2 separate regions of the Homo sapiens genome follow, and region 1 is linked to region 2. Evidence: fine-mapped expression QTL. A gene starts in region 2. The other region holds a variant in brackets. All regions are shown on one strand. Distances are between the middles of the regions. Region 1 overlaps ZNF318 (zinc finger protein 318). Region 2 holds the start of SLC22A7 (solute carrier family 22 member 7).

Evidence for each region. PIP is the estimated chance that this variant, and not a neighbour inherited with it, causes the effect.
Region 1: its variant is the best candidate, but not a certain one, in a credible set for the expression of SLC22A7 in testis (GTEx, PIP 0.82).

Annotation. Positions count from the first base shown.
Region 1 is chr6:43,363,328-43,366,236 of GRCh38, forward strand. ZNF318 (zinc finger protein 318) reads right to left here. Exons shown (of 10, transcript NM_014345.3): 2 at 1,965-2,113. It also overlaps the pseudogene RPS2P28. Among named protein-coding and RNA genes, the nearest start is that of ZNF318, 4.9 kb to the right of the region's middle. The variant T/G (reference allele first, on the strand shown) is at 1,840.
Region 2 is chr6:43,296,745-43,299,653 of GRCh38, forward strand. It overlaps SLC22A7 (solute carrier family 22 member 7), which reads left to right and starts at 1,516. Exons shown (of 11, transcript NM_153320.2): 1 at 1,516-2,007; 2 at 2,348-2,353; 3 at 2,646-2,749; 4 at 2,883-2,909. The coding sequence starts at 1,615. LOC124901319 (a long non-coding RNA gene) reads right to left here. Exons shown (of 2, transcript XR_007059582.1): 2 at 2,198-2,909.

The sequences.
Region 1 (2,909 bases), 67 kb after region 2:
CTATTGCCTCAATTAAGTGATACAGTCACATATCTTGAAGCCCTTTAGAAGCTTCAATGTTATATGACATAAGACTATTTTGCCTTGCTTCTTCTCTGAGAAAACACCAAATGGCAGATGATGTCGGTGGAGGGGGTGGGGCGGGGGCAGAGGCCCCGGGGGCCCTGGGATGGGAAACCGTGGTGGCTTCCATGGAGGGGCTGGGGTTGCAGCTGTGGACAGGGCTGAGGCCACGGAGCTCGTGGAGGCAAGGCCAAGGATAAGGAGTGGATGCCTGTCACCAAGCTGGGCTGCTTGGTTAAGGACATAAAGATCAAGTCCCTGGAGAACTACCTCTTCTTCCTGCCCATCAAGGAATCTGAGATCACTGACTTTTTCCTGGGGGCCTCTCTCAAGGATGAGGTGTTGAAGATTATGCCAGTGCAGAAGCAGACCCACACTGGCCAGTTGAAAAGGTTCAAGGCGTTTGTTGCCATCGGGGACTACAATGGCCACGTCGGTCTGGGTGTTAAGTGCTCCAAGGAGGTGGCCACTGCCACCTGCGGGGCCATCATCCTGGCCAAGCTCTCCATTCTCCCTGTGCACAGAGGCTACTGGGGGAACAAGATCCACAAGCCCCACACCGTTCCTTGCAAGGTGACAGGCTACTGCGGCTCTGTGCTGGTGCACCTCATCCCTGCGCCCAAGGGCACTGGCATCGTCTCAGCCCGTGCCCAAGAAGCTGCTCATGATGGCTGGTATTGATGACTGCTACACCTCAGCCAGGGGCTGCACTGCCACCCTGGGCAACTTCGCCAAGGCCACCTTTGATGCCATCTCTAAGACCTACAGCTACCTGACCCCCGACCTCTGGAAGGAGACAGGATTCACCAAGTCTCCCTATCAGGAATTCACTGACCACCTCATCAAGACACACACCAGAGTCTCTGTGCAGAGGACGTAGGCTCCAGCTGTGGCTACAACATAGGGTTTTTATACAAGAAATATAAAGTGAATTAAGCCTGAAAAAAAAAAAAAAAAAAGACTGTTCTGCCTTGCTTCACTGCATCCACAGCCAATGGAACTTTTAGGTATTACCAACGGCAAAACTGGTCCTCAGACTTCCTGCCCAGCTCTCCCCCACCCGCCTAGCTATGCTCTGTGCAACACGGCAAGCGACAGTCTCAGTTTGAAATTACATTACATTGATTTATTGCTACTGCTAATCATTTGTCAAAACTCCCAATGTGCTGGGCAGAGACCATAACAGTCATGGTCTCAGCTCTGAGAAAGAGTGCTTTCCTGAACTCCCATCCATACTTTGACTTTTGTGAGGTGAAAAACACCTAATGTGATTATTTACAATCTATATATGGTTAAGTTCCTAGTACCTGAGGTCTATATCCAACTCTCTTGAGTGTATCTACCCTTCCTCAGCACTCAATAGTTGTAAAATAATAACTGAACTTAAACATTTTTGAAGGTCTCTAGCTTTCTATTAATACTTTATCTACTTCACATACACACATATATTAGACATGAACTTACCTAACCCTTTCTGAATCTGTTTCAGCCTGGATAAACTAAAAAATAACACCATTTTAAAAAGACTTCCCATTTTGTCCAGAACTTTTCTTTGGAGAAGGGACTGCTCATAGTTTCACTGTTTTAGAATCTATACCATCTCAACTGTTCTTCATTTGGGGGACTCTGATTATGTCCCCTCAGCCTCTTCTTTCTAGTCAGACTCAGATGACCTTTTTAAAGTCTTTTTTTCTATACAATTTATTCAACAACAGAGTCTACACATCATTATACTCCTCCCACTTAGAAATTCTATCCCAGCGTTTTATTTTGTAC[T/G]GGACATGTGGCATAGGAAATAACTTTAGAGCTGGCACCATCCTTTCAAATATATCATTCGGAAAACAGCAACATTTCTGCCTTCAAGTACTAGTATAGTAGGCCCTGCCTTAGGTGATGCCTACCTGTCCATGTCTTCCAGATTATCCACTGGTGACCCCAGCCGATCACTAAGCCGTCGCCGTTCTGGTGTGCTAACACAGAAGTGGTCATTGCCAACAGTGATCCTTAAGCTCTTTTCCAAAGAGTCAGAACACAGACCAGGAGAGCGTCTCTACAAAAGTAAAGGATAATATGGTTAGTCAATAGGGTCAAGACATCCCTACATCCAAAAACTCTCCTCCCTAGTTACAAAGTTAGCCAGGCATGGTGGCTCATGCCTGTATACCCAACACTTTGGGAGGCTGAGGTGTATAGGCCCAGGCAAGAATGTGAGACCAGTCTGGGCAACACAGACTCCATCTCTATAAAAAAAAGTTTAAAATTAGCCAGGTGTGGTCCCAACTACTCAGGTGGCTGAGGTGGGAGGATAGCTTAAGCTTGGGAGGTCAGGGCTGCAGTGAGCCATGACTGCACCACAGCACTTCAGCCTGGGCAATGAGCAGGACCTTGTCTCAAAAACAAAAGACAACCCTGCAAAGTTGGGGTTCAACAAGGTGAGAAATGGTTATGGTAAGACACTATACCAAAAATAAAGCACTTTTTAAAAATTATCATTTTCTTAGAGATATAAGCCCATACCTCTAACTCTCCTAAACGGTGACCTCTCATTCTTACTGGGCATGGGAAAAGAGAAGTGAATAAAGTCCCTGCTCTCAGAACCCTACTTCTAGTGTACATACTTCTAGTGAAGGAGGTAAGCCAAAAACAAGTTTAAAGAAAAAAAAAATTCTTCTGGTAAGTGCTATAGTCATTAAAACATGGTACCATAAAAGGAGTTACTTCAGATAGGATGGTTAGAAAAGGTTTTTCTCAGGTGATAACCTGAGGCCTGAAGAATGAGGTGTCAGCTTTGCAAAGAACAGGTAGAAAGATGTTTCAGGCAAAGAAAAGAACCACCTCAGTATAGA
Region 2 (2,909 bases):
ACTGGGGGAGAGGATCTAGTCCTAGGGAAGTCATAAGGGCCAAGCTAAGGAGCTAGACTTTCCCCCTCAGGCAGCAGAAGCTGGTGAAGGGTTTTAAACAGGGATGTGACCCTCTTAGATTTGTGTTTAAATGTTCACTGTGGCCAGTGTATGGAGAATGGGTTGAAAGGGGTGAGACTGGAGACAGGGAGGGTTAGCTTATTTTAACCCTCCTGTAAGCTCCCTAAGGGTAGGGACCGTGTCTGAGGCATCTATGTACCCTCTAGAATGGCGAGGATGCACTAGAGACTCAAACATTTCTTCTCATTGTCACCCCCTGTCACTGCCACCACCATTAGCTGCCTCTTGCTTCACTCCATGGCTGTCAGCACCCCCATTAACACACGCCATGCCATCGATTTAGCTCCTTTCCCAGCGCTTTCTCAGGGATCCCAGCCTGGAGCAGACTGGGACATCACCAGCTCAGCAGCTTAGGTCAAAAGTGAGATTCCTGGTCTGGAGTCAGGGGACCTGGTCTTTTCTTCAGCTCTGCTGCTGAGTCATTGTGTGACCCCAGCAGGTCCCCTCCCTGTCTTTAGTTTTCTGACCTGTTCAAAGTAGGAGCTGGATTAAACCAGTGGGTCTGCCAGCTAAGTGTTTGGAGAATCAGATGAGAATAAACCAGACATTGCTGGTTTCTGCTGTACTTTTGCTGCAGGGACCATGATTGAGAATTGAGTGGGAGGGTCAGATTGAACATTTGAGTCTTAGGTATTGCATGTACCTTTGACAAGACCTTGGTAACTCCCCCTCCCCCATTCCCTACCCCTCCAAAAGGTAATCTTAGGCATTGCAGGTACCTTGGCAACATGTCCCCCGCCATTCCCTATCCCTCCAAAAGGTAATTTAGGAAGCTGCTGGAAATAGGGGAATGGGACAGGCAGTTGGAACCATATGTATGGGGAGAGTCCCTGAGTGAAGTGGGAATGGGATGAGCCTGGGATCCTCAGAGACATCAAGTTGCCCGGTGTGATCACAGGTGTGTCTTAGGCCAGGGCATCAGCTCCCAGCAGGGGAGAGGGATGCGAGGAGGCCTCATGGCTCAGCAGAAAGAAACCTGGTTAGGATCCAGCTTTCAGTCCTGAATCCTGGGCTGTCGGCCAGGCCATGGCTGTAGCTGCAAATAGGCAAGGCTGACCTAAGGTCTCACAGGACAAAGGGCACCCTGGGAGAGCTGGCCCCAGGCCCCAGGGGCCTCCTCTTCTTAGGGATCCTGGGAGCTCTGCTGACCAAGGGGCTAGGGGCTCACCTCCTATGCCATCACCCAGCTACCTCATCATGGTAGCCTTGGTCCCTGAACACTAATGGGTAAGCCCCAGAGCCACGAGCCAGTGACCTCTGAATGGATGGCTTCCCCTTCCCCCAGGCACCAGGCAAGACAGGTAGAGGTCCCTGGAGACCTGATGGCTGGGGAGGGCCCAGTCCTGGGCCAGCCCCTGAGGGCTGGATTCTGGCTGCAGGCTCTCCAGTCCATCCACTCCCACCTCCAGAGTCCAAGGGTCTATGTGGTGGGCAGTTTGAGCTGGCTGGATACTAGAGGGAGGCTGCACCTGAAGCATTTGGTGGGTGAGCAGCATGGGCTTTGAGGAGCTGCTGGAGCAGGTGGGCGGCTTTGGGCCCTTCCAACTGCGGAATGTGGCACTGCTGGCCCTGCCCCGAGTGCTGCTACCACTGCACTTCCTCCTGCCCATCTTCCTGGCTGCCGTGCCTGCCCACCGATGTGCCCTGCCGGGTGCCCCTGCCAACTTCAGCCATCAGGATGTGTGGCTGGAGGCCCATCTTCCCCGGGAGCCTGATGGCACGCTCAGCTCCTGCCTCCGCTTTGCCTATCCCCAGGCTCTCCCCAACACCACGTTGGGGGAAGAAAGGCAGAGCCGTGGGGAGCTGGAGGATGAACCTGCCACAGTGCCCTGCTCTCAGGGCTGGGAGTACGACCACTCAGAATTCTCCTCTACCATTGCAACTGAGGTACTTAAGCCCAGAAGTTGAGAGACATGTGAGAGGGATGGGCCTGCCATTGCCTTGGGTGGTTACTGTGTAGGCATTAGATGTATTACTTTACCTCTTAAAGTCTCAGTTTACCAATCTGTAGATGGGGGCTATGAATATAAGGCACTTTTAGTTCATGGCTTGTAGTAACAGGATCCTACACAAGAACTGTTATCATCATCATTAATTGGGAGGTGATTAAGGCAGGGAAGGGCTAAAGTGGCTTCAGGGAGTTGAGACAAAGAGCTGAGAAGGCAATTTCTGCAGCAAGAGGTGGAGAAACAATAGAGGCCTTCTTTTCTCCCTTCCTCTTTTCCAGTCCCAGGTCGGTATTTACATAATCCATCTGGAGGTGGAATGTCGGTGGAGGCAGTCTCCCTGGGAGGCAGCAGGTCGAGGCCTTCCTTGGGAAGAAGCTGAGGCTGCAGGACTGGGGAGGGACAAAGTTTCCTATTCCCCAAGCTGGCGTGAATCGTTGGGAGGTTTATTATCTGGCATGGAGGTACCAGAATGGCAGAGTTCGCCTCAGAAGGCTCCAGGGTCTGGAGAGGAGGAGCTGGTGCCTGCTGGAGAGGGGCTGATGTTCATAGGAGGTCCCTTTCTGCCTGTCCTTGCAGTGGGATCTGGTGTGTGAGCAGAAAGGTCTGAACAGAGCTGCGTCCACTTTCTTCTTCGCCGGTGTGCTGGTGGGGGCTGTGGCCTTTGGATATCTGTCCGACAGGTGGGGTGAGGCACTGGGCCAATAAGAAACTGGCTGGGGGAACTTTCTCCCACTAGCTGGGGTATGAGCCTAGTCTACCTATGCCTTAGAACCTCCTTCCACAGGGAACTGACCCTGCATGACCCCTTTGCAGGTTTGGGCGGCGGCGTCTGCTGCTGGT